Linked DNA regions of Homo sapiens. The protein of the gene in region 3 interacts with the protein of the main gene of each other region in a biochemical or structural test. Each region holds a gene or a part of one and is shown on either strand. Other genes may lie near its edges.

Evidence for each region.
Region 1: the proteins of CARD11 (region 3) and BCL10 form a complex in vitro, tested with the Homo sapiens proteins (2 studies listed by BioGRID, with this or other methods).
Region 2: the proteins of CARD11 (region 3) and CLDN20 interact in a test that uses a peptide from one of them, tested with the Homo sapiens proteins (one large-scale study listed by IntAct).
Region 4: the proteins of CARD11 (region 3) and PRKN interact in a test that uses a peptide from one of them, tested with the Homo sapiens proteins (one large-scale study listed by IntAct).

Annotation. Positions count from the first base shown.
Region 1 is NC_000001.11:85,266,340-85,270,132, reverse strand, and holds part of BCL10 (B-cell lymphoma/leukemia 10), read left to right. Parts: intron 1-2,150; coding exon 2,151-2,506; 3' UTR 2,507-3,793. UniProt on the Homo sapiens protein: Plays a key role in both adaptive and innate immune signaling by bridging CARD domain-containing proteins to immune activation.
Region 2 is NC_000006.12:155,274,013-155,277,341, forward strand, and holds the end of CLDN20 (claudin-20 precursor), read left to right. Parts: intron 1-1,603; 5' UTR 1,604-1,707; coding exon 1,708-2,367; 3' UTR 2,368-2,536; downstream 2,537-3,329. UniProt on the Homo sapiens protein: Plays a major role in tight junction-specific obliteration of the intercellular space, through calcium-independent cell-adhesion activity.
Region 3 is NC_000007.14:2,946,018-2,950,104, forward strand, and holds part of CARD11 (caspase recruitment domain-containing protein 11), read right to left. Parts: intron 1,771-4,087; coding exon 1,558-1,770; intron 1,071-1,557; exon of another isoform or gene 580-1,070; intron 1-579. UniProt on the Homo sapiens protein: Adapter protein that plays a key role in adaptive immune response by transducing the activation of NF-kappa-B downstream of T-cell receptor (TCR) and B-cell receptor (BCR) engagement.
Region 4 is NC_000006.12:161,346,624-161,349,841, forward strand, and holds the end of PRKN (E3 ubiquitin-protein ligase parkin), read right to left. Parts: 3' UTR 794-3,218; downstream 1-793. UniProt on the Homo sapiens protein: Functions within a multiprotein E3 ubiquitin ligase complex, catalyzing the covalent attachment of ubiquitin moieties onto substrate proteins. Substrates include SYT11 and VDAC1.

The DNA.
Region 1 (3,793 bases), on a different chromosome or scaffold from region 3:
TTTATAGAAAACTATTATGAAATCCCTGCATACATAAGGATTTGTTTCTAAAGTCAGTAGAATGTAAAGTTAATCTATTCAAGAGTAAGCTCTGAAAATACTGTACATCACACATAAAGAACAGTATTTAGGCAAAGTATTGTAAAAGTCCAACTCTGCTAGTTTTTCTTATGATCACCAGTTGATCACAAGATGAAGTAATTGGCATATGTTTATAGGAATCACGTTGCATAAAATATTCATGACTTTAAACTAGTCTGGCAAGATGTGAAAGCATGGAAACAGATTAAGAGAATAGCAGATTCACCTGTCCCATTTCACTCTCACTCCAGAATATACACTCACTGATTGGAATATTGTGTGGAATTGCCTACACAATTTAAATCCCCAACCCCCTCCTGCCTCTGTTCCTCACTGTCTCTCTCCAGAGCACATAAATGTGCATGTGATGTTCTACAGCTCTTCTAGGCATTAGGGATACAGAAAAGAATAATTTAGGGCTCTGCCCTTAAGGAACTCATAGTCTATAAGTGTCCCCTTGCTGGGACACATTACAAGTTTTCCCTTTTGAGCCATATCTAAGAAAGTAGTTTGTATAGCATGGAATAGACATGCTGACTGTACTGTGAGGTTGAAAAACTAGTGGAAGAAGTGACATGTAAGTGCCCTTTATAGACTATGCAGGTTTTGCCTAAAAATTGTCAACTCAGGGTTTCTGTGCCTGTAGGTTGAATATTTGCTAAGCCTAACAGAAGGGTAAATTGTGTTTGTGTTTATTCTTTCAATCCTCTGGATAATGGTTAACTATACCCTTTGGATATCATAAAATTCTTTGATGGTATCTAAGTTGTTTTCTGCTGTAGCAATACCTGAGACTGGGTAACTTTTAAAGAAAAGAAATGTATTCATTTCTTACAGTTCTGGAGGCTGGTTAAGTCCAAGACCATGGCGCCAGCATCTGGCAAGGGTCATGCATGGTGGAAGGGCAGAAGATGGAAGAGCAAGGGAGGGCAAGAGTGTGAAAGAGAAGAAAAAGGAGTCGAACTCCCAAAATAACTAACCCATTCCCGTGATAATGGCATTAGTCCAGGGCAGAGCCCTCATGACCCTGTTGCCTCCCAAAGGCCTCAGCTCCTAACACTGCTGCAGTGGCAACCAAGTTTCCAACATGTGAACTTTTGGCGGATACATTCGTACCACAGCTAATGGGAACAACCACTGTCATTTGAGTAAACTGTGAGGTTGAGAAACAGGACATTATCTATTGAATTGTAGTTCTCACTTTCCCACAAAGTAGTCCTGGAATGTTGGACATGACTTAACTGTCCTGTGCCTTTTTTTTCTCTTTTTTTTTTTTTTTTTTTGAGACGGAGTCTTGCTCTTGTCACCCAGGCTGGAGTGCAATGGCATGATCTCAGCTCACTGCAACCTCTGCCTCCCAGGTTCAAGCGATTCTCCTACTTCAGCCTCCTGAGTAGCTGCGATTGCAGGCACCTGCCACCACGCCTGGCTAATTTCTGTATTTTTAGTAGAGATGGGGTTTCGCCATGTTGGCCAGGCTGATCTCAAACTCCTGACCTCATGATCTGCCCACTTCGGCCTCCCAAAGTGCTGGGATTACAGGCGTGAGCCACCATGCCCCGCCCTTTTTTCTCGTCTTTAATAATAAGAGACTATCCTAGGTGACCTCTAAAATTCCTTTTAGTTCTAATATCCTATTATTCAAGAATTAGCCATTGTCATTGATCAACAGATAGAATTTTAGCATCTGCCGTTTACATTTTTTTATTAGCTAATATTTTTTGTACCAGAATACTAAAGAATATTTATTGTGAAAGCTATTTCTTATTTTATAAAAAATTTTAGGTGGTTAAGTTTATATGTACGCTGTACCTTAAATGAGAATTACAGCATGTCGTTTAACTTCCACGAGACTATTTTGTTATATAGAAAATGCAAATAATAGTATACTTCATGGTTGTTGAGAAAAGCAAATTAGATTTGAAATAGATTATGACGGAAATTACAAGTTGCTATTTAAATTTTGATTGTGGGGTAACTAGCTTGTAATCTTTAACAAGTCACAAGATGGACAGTGACTCCATTTTTTTAGTTACTTTTTCATTTACATCTGAATAATTTTATTGTAGGACTAAAATGTAGCAGTTGTGAACCTTTTCCAGATGGAGCCACGAACAACCTCTCCAGATCAAATTCAGATGAGAGTAATTTCTCTGAAAAACTGAGGGCATCCACTGTCATGTACCATCCAGAAGGAGAATCCAGCACGACGCCCTTTTTTTCTACTAATTCTTCTCTGAATTTGCCTGTTCTAGAAGTAGGCAGAACTGAAAATACCATCTTCTCTTCAACTACACTTCCCAGACCTGGGGACCCAGGGGCTCCTCCTTTGCCACCAGATCTACAGTTAGAAGAAGAAGGAACTTGTGCAAACTCTAGTGAGATGTTTCTTCCCTTAAGATCACGTACTGTTTCACGACAATGACACTTTATTGCCTTTTAATTTTTAATGATGACAAAAAATGTTTTAAAGAATATGACTTTTTATAAAATGGCTGTAATCATTTGTTTACATTTGATGCATGTCTTTTAAAATGCAATGTAAGCATACTTTGTAAATAGGATTTTTAGAATTAAAAAAGCATACTTCTAGGATAGCTAACTGTAAATCATGTTGATCATGTACTTTTTAGTAATTTCTTTTTTTCCTTTTTAAGGTCTTTCAGTACTTTTTTAAATATTTTCTATTTTAAGACTGATTTTAATAGGGAATATATCTCTATTTGAGAATAGACCCTTACTAGGAAGAACGTTTTTTCCTCAGTGCATTTGTGCTAGAAATTTTCAAGAGTCTAATAGTCTTTGCCAGTCATTCAGCAGCAAATTTTCAGCATTAAGCTGTTCCTGTTCAGTAATAAAACCGGTCACTGATGGGAAAACTGCCAATATAGAAAAATAAAAATCTCTTTTCCACTCCATTGTCGTATAGGCATGTAAACAGCCTCTTTTTGATACTGGAGGAACACTTGATGGAGTGTGAGCCACCTAAGATCTCGGTTTGCCAAAATTCATTTCTAATTAACCTTACTAATTATACTACTTTGTTAGGATTTTCACATTCTTGGCTTAATCATTTTCATTCCTAAAGAAAAATATCTTGGCCTAAACCTCAGTTATTACATGTAATTTGATGAGGTATTTTTTCCTTTTTTCTTTTTTTTTTTTTTTTTTTTTTGAGACAGTCTTGCTCTATCGCCCAGGCTGGAGTGCAGTGGCGCATTCTAGGCTCACTGCAACTTCTGCCTCCCATGCTTACGTGATCCTCTCACCTCAGCCTCTCAAGTAATATAGCTGAGACTACAAGTGTGTGCCACCATGCCTCACTAATTTTTGTATTATTTTTGTAGAGACGGTGTTTTGCCATGTTGGCCAGGCTGGTCTTGAACTCCTGGACTCAAGCAACCTACCCAGCGTGGCCTCCCAAAGTGCTGGGATTACAGACACGAGCCACCTCACCTAGCCTGATGAGATTTTTAAAAAATATTTTCTCTGTACTTTTCATTCTCTTTTAATGAGGACCAATGTACAGTTGAAATAACTGGAACAAATTATTTTTGGTGTGTGTGACAATTCTGTTTTTAATGCTATTTGAACAAGTGGGCCATTAGCCAGATTTGTCTTTTTGTTGTAAAACAAAATTTGACTAATTTTACATGTTTATAAATCTTATGCTCTCACTGTTTGTTTTTATTTAAATTACAATTTTATCTGT
Region 2 (3,329 bases), on a different chromosome or scaffold from region 3:
AATATTGGTCTAAGCCCTTAAAATGTATTAACTTATTTAACCCTATGAACGAAGTATTTCAATCCTCCCCATTTTCCAGAAGAGGATACTGAGGCACAGAGAGGTATAAAGCTAAGAACTGGCCCAAGTGTCTTTGACTCAAGAGCCTGTATCACCTTTTGTAAAATACATATGAATCACGACAGAGCCACTTTAGCATACCATTCAAAATTAACTCAGAATGACAAAGAAAGTCAGTACTGCAGTATTTCAGAAACCATTACATTTTTCTCAAATAAGGCAGTAAGCAGTGCCAGATGGGCTAGATAGGGGAACAGGAATAGAAAGATGGAATCGAAAGCCTTTTTGTTTCTTAAAACACAGCCAAGCCACAAAGTAGGTGGTCTTTTCCTTCCTCTTAAAAATAAACAAAGAAAATAAAGGGTTAATTTATTTCTGGTATCCTTTCACATACAACTAATGATGTGGTTATTTCTGGTATGTATTTTTGAGATCTGCCATCACTACTTCTGAATTGTTCAGAATAGCCGGCTTCATTTGGGCCAGGAAATGATTCTGGTCCCAATTAGAAAGGACCTCATGTTCTTATATACAAAAAACAGTGGCTTAATTGTTTTGAGTACCAGGCACCTGAAGTAAAACAAGTACTAACCTCAGTCAGGATTTTGCAAACAGGTATTAACTAGAACTTAGGGATAACCATGCCAGTGACTCAGACTTCTTTCCACTGCTGTCCTTCCTCCTCAAATGGTTCACTTGGGCTATGTGCCTGGCACTGTGGGTGTGTCATAAAGATCTGTTTATGAAAGCCACTTCCTAAATACTTTTCTAAAATGTATTTATAAACCATCTTTAAAAGGTGGCCTTAATTTATTTTCTTCCTTATTATGTATTGAGTATTTTCATTAAAAATAAAATCATTTGGGCGAGGCGTGGTGGCTCACGCCTGTAATCCCAGCACTTCGGGAGGCCGAGGTGGGCGGATCACGAGGTCAGGAGATCGAGACCATCCTGGCTAACAGGGTGAAACCCCATCTCTACTAAAAATACAAAAAAAAAAAAAATTAGCCGGGCATGGTGGCGGGCGCCTGTAGTCCCAGCTACTCGGGAGGCTGAGGCAGGAGAATGGTGTGAACCCAGGAGGTGGAGCTTGCAGTGAGCCAAGATCGCTCCACTGCACTCCAGCCTGGGTGACAGAGTGAGACTCCATCTCAAAAAAAATAAAAATAAAAAATAAAATCATTTGAAAAACCTATAATGCTATTAAAATTCTTTATCAGATACTATAGCTGGAATTTCAAATGTCTAAATCTCCTAACAACGTACATGTCCACGCTACAGTTTCAGCATATGTTGAGTTTTAAAAAGAATTAAGTGGGCAACTGCTTTCTTTATGCCCTGTATCAACACCACCCATGCATATCACTCAGACCAGTCTTCAAGGCCTGGTGGGAGCTTTTCTCCTCCAGCCTACAGCATCCTCATCTGCTTGGGGGCTGGAGAAGGGGGATACTCAGATGTGTTCTTGGCTCCTACTCTAAAGGGAAGCCTTTTGTTTACTTACTTTCTTTCGCTCAATCCTGGTTTTGCCTTTTTTCCTTAGGCTTTGTTATTTGGTTCTCTACTGCACAGAAATAGATAGAATTCTGACAGCCATCATTGTTAAACATCAGGATTTTCTAAGAGGACAGACTTAACAGTAACATCATGGCCTCAGCAGGACTCCAGCTCCTTGCTTTCATCCTGGCCTTATCTGGGGTCTCTGGAGTGCTCACAGCCACTCTGCTGCCCAACTGGAAGGTGAATGTGGATGTGGACTCCAACATCATAACAGCCATTGTACAGCTGCACGGGCTCTGGATGGACTGTACGTGGTACAGCACTGGGATGTTCAGCTGTGCCCTGAAACACTCCATTCTGTCCCTCCCCATCCACGTGCAGGCTGCGAGAGCCACCATGGTCCTGGCGTGTGTTCTGTCTGCTTTGGGGATCTGCACTTCCACAGTAGGAATGAAATGTACTCGCTTAGGAGGGGACAGAGAAACCAAGAGCCATGCTTCCTTTGCTGGAGGAGTCTGTTTCATGTCTGCAGGAATCTCTAGTTTAATCTCGACAGTGTGGTACACAAAGGAGATCATAGCAAACTTTCTGGATCTGACAGTTCCAGAAAGCAACAAACATGAACCTGGAGGAGCTATCTATATCGGATTCATTTCTGCAATGCTGTTGTTTATCTCTGGCATGATTTTCTGCACCTCCTGTATAAAAAGGAATCCAGAAGCTAGACTCGACCCACCCACACAGCAGCCTATCTCTAACACACAGCTCGAGAACAATTCCACACACAATCTGAAGGATTATGTGTAAATAACTGAGTAATGCATATGAAATGGAACTTTTGGGTGCCAAATGGGACTTTTAGATTAAAAAAAAATCAGAATTATGCTTAACTTTCCCTACAAAGAAAGTAGAATGTAAAATACTTTAACAACTACAAAGTAGTTTAAAATGCCAATAAAACTATCATATACAATTACATCTGTCTGAAGAGTTCTTTATTTTTTCCATTATTGTTTCCATGTTTTACTTAAAGATTTATAATTGAAAGAGGTTCTGATTACATTCATAAGGCAATTATTTGATAGCTTTTTCAAGATAATTTGCTGATACACCTTTCAAACTGGATTTTATAAAAGAACTAAACTGCCAAGTATAAAAAGTACCTTGCCCTGGTGTTAACCAAGAATATTATCCACTTTGCTATCTGGTTGGCAACAACACAGCAACTTGCTTCTGTTTTAAAGCTACAGTGTGTGAAAGTACATTAGGAATACAAGAGCTGCCTACTCCATTCAGATGCTGCTAAAACCATCCATCCCAAGTCCCCACCTCCTGTGACCAGCCCATTTCTTTTTCATTTTAGAAAACTATCTACATATATTTGTAAGAGCTGACAATATTATATGCAAACTAAGATTAGGCAGAACTGAAGAAATTGGTAAATGCTACCACAGTAAAGAAAGCCAAACCAAACTAAAATCTCTAGGACTCTTAAAGCATTAAGTACAAGCTAAGTGATAAGAACAAAAGTTTGTTTTAAAATGTTTAAGAACTCCCTTCTTCTGCTTCTAGCAAGAGGATTCTCCACAGATTAAGTTCATTTATCCTATCACATTCTGGATTTACTACCATCCCACTTCCTCTCTCATTTATTCATATTTGGATGATAAAAGTTACCTTTGTCACTTTTTCTCTCAAATTTCATTCATGTTAACAAAAACATTCTTACAAATAAGCTGTTTCAATTAATGAATGTCAAAATATATTTT
Region 3 (4,087 bases):
GCTGGTCTCATCCTGGACTTGTGTCCTTCAATCAACTCTAAGAAGACAGTCTCCCCACATTCTATCACTTCTGAGTTGTATCTTGGAGCCCAGATGACGTAAATCAAGGTGCCAGGCCCTCCGCAGGGATTTGGTGAGCGTTAGTTTTCTGTTTCTAATAAACTGGTAGAACCAGGATAAATGGAATTGCCGCCCCAGTTTTGAAGAGTTTCCCAACTGACCAGGGCCAAAATGAACCACGTAGGCACCAGGTCTTCTATGACTGAAGGAGGTTGGAAGCACGATAAAAATTATGGAATAATATATGGTTCTCTGGGATTGAGAGCAGGAAGACAAATCTTTGGGTGAGAGGCTAGGAAAAATCATAGGAAGTAGGGATAGTTCTAGGTTTTTCTTTGGGATTATTACACAACCTGGAAACACCTTAAATGTAATTTCCCCAGCAGGTCCCAGTTTCTATACTATTGATTCCACTTATTGCTTACATTTCTGGGCCCTTCCTTAAACATTTTATTTTCAGATATTCTTCTGAGATATAGAAGAAGAAAGGTAGGTCTTAAAACTCGACCTTTTCCCTAGGACGGACAGAAGAAATAAATTTGATGGTATGTCAACCCCGATTGTTTGGTGAAGCCGCCTGCAGTACTGTTTCGAGAAACATTCCAAAGTTACATCCAAGCTCAGTGGGAAAGCATGCTGATTACTGATGTCTGCCATGGATGCCAGAGAGTCGCAGCTGATGAGCCACTTACCACCAGCCACGCTGGGGGACAGTGATTATCAAACCTTCTAAACTGATCCATAGAAAGAAAAACATTTAACATTGTGGTCTAGTGACCATAGACAAAGATAACTCTACAAGTACATGTGTATACACATGTACATAATGTAAAATTAAAACAAGCTTCACAAACCATATTTATTACCTTTACTGAATATGATAAACCCCCCCTCCAGAAGTCAGGCTAGAAAAGCTTGTGGAACCCTTCTCGGAATATTTTTAAACAGATAAAGTACATCAGATTACAAAAGAAACCAATTATAATAAAATCCAGTTATCAAATATTAAATAAATTTGTGTTTCAGTAACATACTTCTTTATTAATGCATTAAATAACAAGACCTCTCGGCAGGTCTAATAAGTACTGTAATTTTGAAAGAGAGATGAGTGTAAGTGGCATTTTGAGAGATTTGCAGTAACTGTAGTGATAGGAAGAGATCTGTAATTTTCATTGTTGCCTAAGTCACAAGAATTACTAATCACTCCTGTAATTTGTGGCTTCCTGACATTTGCAATTGAGGGCAATGCTGAATTGCAGTTGAGGTTGGTAAAATAAAGATGGCATTTCTTCCCCCCTCCCAGTTTATGGATCCTTTGAGTTCCATACACAGACAGCTTGAGTTCTATACACAAATGAGTAGGTGATGGACTGCGGACCCCAGTTTAAAAATCCCTGACCTAGAGCAACTTCATTTTGGTACAGCTACCAAAGGGTATGTCTGGAAGTTGCCGTGTGCGGTAGCCCTCCCTCTCCCGCAAAGAGGTCCTAAGGTTACCTGCTCGGTTGATCTTGGATGGCAGCATAGGGGCATTAAGCACTTCATCTTCATCCTGCTCATCAATGACCTTACACTGACGCAGGTAGGGCGTGAGCTTGGCAGGGTTGATATAGCGGCTGAGCATGTGCCGGTTACACTCCACATTCTCCCACAAGGCGTCCTCTTCATCCTTCAGCGTCTCCATGTAGTCATCCATCTCTGGCCCTCCTCCTTTTAGACATAAACCCCAACAAGCTTAATAAAGCAGTCTCACTGGAACAGCTCTATCAACTCCTCTGGAGTGACCTCTAGAATATATTAAGTTAAAAAAAAGTCCTGTACACTAAAGTATATATAGCATTTTACCTTTTGTCTAAGAAAGGGGTTATGAATATAAAAATATATATTTCCTTATATGCTAAACATAAACAATGGAAGTTTAAGCCATCAATTTTAAAAAAGATTATTTATAGGGCAGAGAGGGAAAATCCTGCGGTTGAGTCTACCCTTTCCATCCAAGTTTTTATGTCTTACTAAAAATGTATAGTTCCCTAAACAATATATACTATTGGCTTTTGTTTTAAAATTTCACATAAATGGTGTCATACTGTACGTTTCCTTTTTCAGCATGTTTTTCTCCCTCTACATTTTTTTTTGAGATTTATCTAGATGGATACATATAGATCTAAGTCATTCGTTTTTAAAAATAGCTTTATTGTGATGTAATTCACATAGCATACAAGTTACCTTTTTAATATGTTCAATTCAATGATTTTAGTATATTCACAGAGCTGTGCAACCACCACCACAATCAATTTAAAATCATTTCCGTCATTTCAAAAAGAAGCTCCTCACCCTTTATTAGCCACTCTCAATTTCCCTCTAATCCCTGCTCCTCCAGCCCTGTGTAACCACTCGTTCACCTTCTGTCTGTATAGATTTGTCTTTTCCGTACATTTTATACAAGTGAAATCCTACAATTTATGGTCTTTCATGTCTGGCTTCTTTCACTCAGCAACTTTTCAAGGTTTGTTCCTGTTGTAGCATGTATCAGGACTTCACTTATTTTAAATTGCTCAGTGATTTTTTCATTGCATGGACATGCCCCATTTTGCTTGTCTGTTCATCCACTAATGGACATTTGAGTTATTTCTACCTTTTGTCTATTATGAACAATGCTGCTATGAACATTCATGTAAAAGTTTTTGTGTGACTGTATGTTTTTATTTCCCTTGGGTAGATACGTAAGAGTGGATTGTTAGGCCATATGGCAACTCTATATTTAACATTTTGAGGAATTGCCAAATTGTTTTCCAAAGCAGCTGCATCATTTTACATTGCCACCAACAAGCCATGAGGGTTTTAATTCCTCCATATTCTTGCTAACAACTTGTTATTGTCTGTCTTTTTTATTACAGCTCTCCTACTGAGTGTGAAGTAGCATCTCATTGTGGTTTTGATTTGCATTTCCCTAATGACTAACGATGTTGAGCATCTTTTCATGTGCATATTGGCCATTTGTGTGCATTGAGAAATGTCTATTCAAATCCTTTGCCCATTTTAAAATTGTGTTGTTTGTCTTTTTATTATTGGGTTGTAGGATTTTGTTATGTATTCTGGATGCAAGCCACTTATCAGATATATGACTTGCAAATATTTTCTCCCACTCTGTCAGTTGTCTTTTCACTTTCTTAAAAGCATTGTTTGTAGCACAAAAGTTTCAAATTTTGAGGTAGTCCAATTTATTTATTTTTTCTTTTTTTCACTTGTGCTCTTGGCATGTATCCGAAACACCATTGTCTAACTCAAGATGATGAAGACTTACTCCTGTTTTTTGCCTTTGAATATTATACCTTAGTTCTTACATTGAGGATGATCCATTTTGAGTTAATTTTTGTGTATGGTGTGAGGTAGGGGTCCAGTTGCATTCTTTTATGTGTGGATGTCCAGTTGTCCAAGCACAGTTTGTTTGAAAAGACTACTCTTTCCCCATTGAATGATCTTGCTACCCTTGTTGACAATCAACTGACCATAAAAGTAAACATTTGTTTTTGCACTATTGATTCTATTCCATTGATCTATATGTGTATCCTTATGCCAGTACTACATTGTCTTGATTACCGAAGATTTGTAGATTTGTAGTAGGCCTTGAAATTGGGAGTATGGGTCTCCCAACCTTGTTCTTTTTCAAGATTGTTTTGGCTATTAGGTGCCTTTTACCTAATTTTAGGATTAGGATGTCAATTTCTGCAAAAAAGGCAGTTGGCATTTTGGTAGTGAATCTGCTGAATATGTAGATCAATTTGGAGAGTACTGCTACCTAACAATATTAAATCTTCTGATCTATGAACAGGGGGATGTCTTTCTTTAAATCTTCTTTAATTTCTTTCAGCAATGTTTCATAGTTCTCAGTGTACAAGTCTTGCACTTCTTTTGTTAAATATATTCCTAAGTATTTCATTAATTTGATGACATTATAAATGGGAGTTTTTTTCTTAATTTCATTTGTGGGATATTCATTGCTGGTCTATAGATATATAATTTATTT
Region 4 (3,218 bases), on a different chromosome or scaffold from region 3:
AATTAATTAGTTGTGACAACAACCTAACGTGGTGCATGCTATTATTGTCCCCGAAGCTCTTACACAGGTGCGTTTTGGAGGTGGGGTTCCCACCCTGGCACCCAGAGCTCACCCACTTTCTCTGCCCCCTTTTGCTCTATCATCACCTGGGCCACCATTCCCATGACCTTTGCATATCCTCGGAGTGTTTCCTGTGGCTACTGGCACCCAGAGGACCTCAGTGTGTACTTCTTTGCCTAATGTTGTGCAGGCCCTATCTCGGAATGTTCCATTCCAGATCCCTCCACCATGGGCTCATTGTGAAATAAACAATGCATGGCCACTAAAGCAGTTCTTTGAAAATGCAGCGTCAACACACCCACATTGACAGCAATGCAAAGTCACTGAAATTTTCTAGAATGACATGAGAAAAAATCCTTATAGATAGTCTTTTCCAATGCAAACTTCTCTTTTAAACACTTTTATTAGAAAAGTTTGCTAGTAAGGCAGGAAAGTAACTTTTAGATTTTTATGAATGAGGGTTTGCTTTTTGGAACCCTTTCAAATTTTGATAGCCTTAAAAAACTACTCTTATTTAACAAAGAGAAACAGCCAGCGGTAATCTGGAGCTTGGAGTTGATATGAGAATGGCTATTTCATCACCAGGTAATTCCTCCAGGTCACTGAATGGCTATTTCATCACCAGGTAATTCCTCCAGGCCACAAGTGAGGCCCATGGAGTAATACAGCCTGTGATTCCCTCCGTCACCCTTCACATTGATTGAAAATGTATCTTCAAAGACAGACTCAGAAGCTCTTTTGATGCTTTATTGACAATTTAAGTACAATCTTAGAGTTGTCAGATAATCTCAACACACTTCAGAGAAAAACAGACTTTTTCTGCAAAGACTTTATTTCTATTTTTTGATACATTCATATTTTGTTACACCCTTCCTGTGCAAATAATACTGTGATTCATGTTCATGTGTAGTGGATGATCTTGCTTTTTTGTTTTTGTTTTTTTTTTTTTTTTGAGACAGAGTCTCACTCTGTTGCCCAGGCTGGAGTTCAGTGGCGTGATCTCGGCTCACTGCAACCTCTGCCCCCCGGGTTCAAGTGATTCTCCTGCCTCAGCCTCCCAGGAAGCTGGGATTACAGGTGCCTGCCACCACGCCCAGCTAATTTTTGTATTTTTAATAGAGACGGGGTTTCATCATCTTGGCCAGGCTGGTCTTGAACTCCTGACCTCGTGATCCACCCACCTCGGCCTCCCAAAGTGCTGGGATTACAGGCATGAGCCACCGCGCCCGGCCTGCTCTAACTTATTTTAAGAATCACTGTTCTATTCTGGAAAGGGAAAAGACCACCACCAAGAAGGGAAAGGAGACCATGCTGGACAGCCTAATAGTCTAACAGGGGATCCTAGGGTGCCTGAGCTCATGGGAGCAAACCTTGTTCAGGCACCGCAAGCCCAACGCAGCATGCAGATTGGGAAGGCGCAATAATGCAAACACCATCAGGAAGAAAGCTATGGATGATGGAAAACACTGTGTGCTCCACGTGACAGAAGGGAGCCACCTGATTTGTCGCATCGGGCCAGTGTAAGGAAGTGTAATTTAGTGGGACTGCCAGTGACACTAAGTCAGGCCTTGATCAGGGTCTGGACTCAGTATGGACACGAGCCACTGGGTGCAGGGGGCTCATGCCTGCCACCTCTCTTTTTTTCCCTTACTATAGAGACTTTGATCTGTCCACCATTTCTATGTGAGCTTTGGGCTTCCTGTCACAGGTCTGTTGTCACCGTGGGGCCATGTTGGAGTCGGTAGATTTTCAGACAGTGAAGCCACATGAAGCTGTGAATGCTGATGTGGCTGCTGCAGAGCCCAGTCTCTCCCCGGTGCAGGGCCTCTGAGACGACGGGACTGTCCTCAGATGGTTGGAAGAAATGGGTTATCTTAGGCAGTTAGGAAAAGAGGGACAGGTGTCCCAGGATGTGGAAAACTTGAGTTCATCCCCTCTCTTCCCTCCAGCAAGGATTTCAGTGCTACATCTAAAAAGAGAAGCCCTGTTGCCGATTTAATAATTTACAGTCTCTAAATCCAAAAGGGCCTCCATGTGCTAGTGAGACTCATGCCCTCAGTTATGTTCACGATCTTCCTGAGAAGTCAGACAATACAGGTAGAACAAAAGATAGTGGTTGTACTTTCTCTTCTGCGTAGTGTGGGTAAGAGCATGCGGTTTGCCGCATGCAGTGTTGTTAATCTTTTGATTGTGTTGTGAATGGCTGAAAAAAAAGCTGAAAGTTTGATTGAACTGAAATCCAATCCATGTCAACATAAGGAATATTCTAGTGAGTTTACTGTCCTAAGAGAAGGTCTCTCCTGGGGAACCCCTGGTATGCAGAGCTCCCTGGGACTTGCAGATTGGACAGAGAGGGTGTGCCAAAGGGGTATAAACCCTTCTGATGGAGAGAGTCGGGCGTGTCTTCATTTTGGTAGTTCTGGAAAGGCTCCTCTTTAAAGATTCTGATTTAATAATGTTCACTTTTGTTAAGATTGAATATCATTTTGAAATCATTTCTAAACGTGTTTCCTTTATAGGCACTTTATCTATTAAATTTACAGTGGAGCCAAATGTATTAGCAAAATCTCCAAGTTGCAAAATGAATACTCAGAATCAAACTATAGATTTTTTGGTGATACTTTCAGAAAAACAATTTCTTTCTAAAGTTGCAAATCATGAAAGGGAATGAAAGTACATTAACTTGATTTCTTCCCTGTAATTCAAACATTCAACATTCAAATTAACTTTCATAATTTCTCACTTTGTGACAAGTTGATTTACGCATAGTTGGTATTTCATTAATGCGATTTATATAGATGGAATTCTTAAGGATAAACAAATGTTTTTGACTATTGCCTGGGGTTCTTTGGGAATAGATGCTTTCTGAAAATTTAAATAAGAACATTACTGTTAAAGCCATGAATCTAGTTTGGAGAACCCACTGCAGTTCATTTTACAGAGAAACACCTTGTCAATGGCATCTTCATGGTGTTTACTGAAGGTAAAAGGCAGGATATTAAATGTGAGAACTCTCTCTCCAGCTACTGATTCTGCCTGTCTCGAATTCAGGTGAGAATGACCCATACAGATACATGGATTGCACTTGAATCTGTGCTCTGGTATTTGTGTCATCCGGAGGCTGAGAACGCCTGTTGGTGGTGTCGCAGATGGCTCTG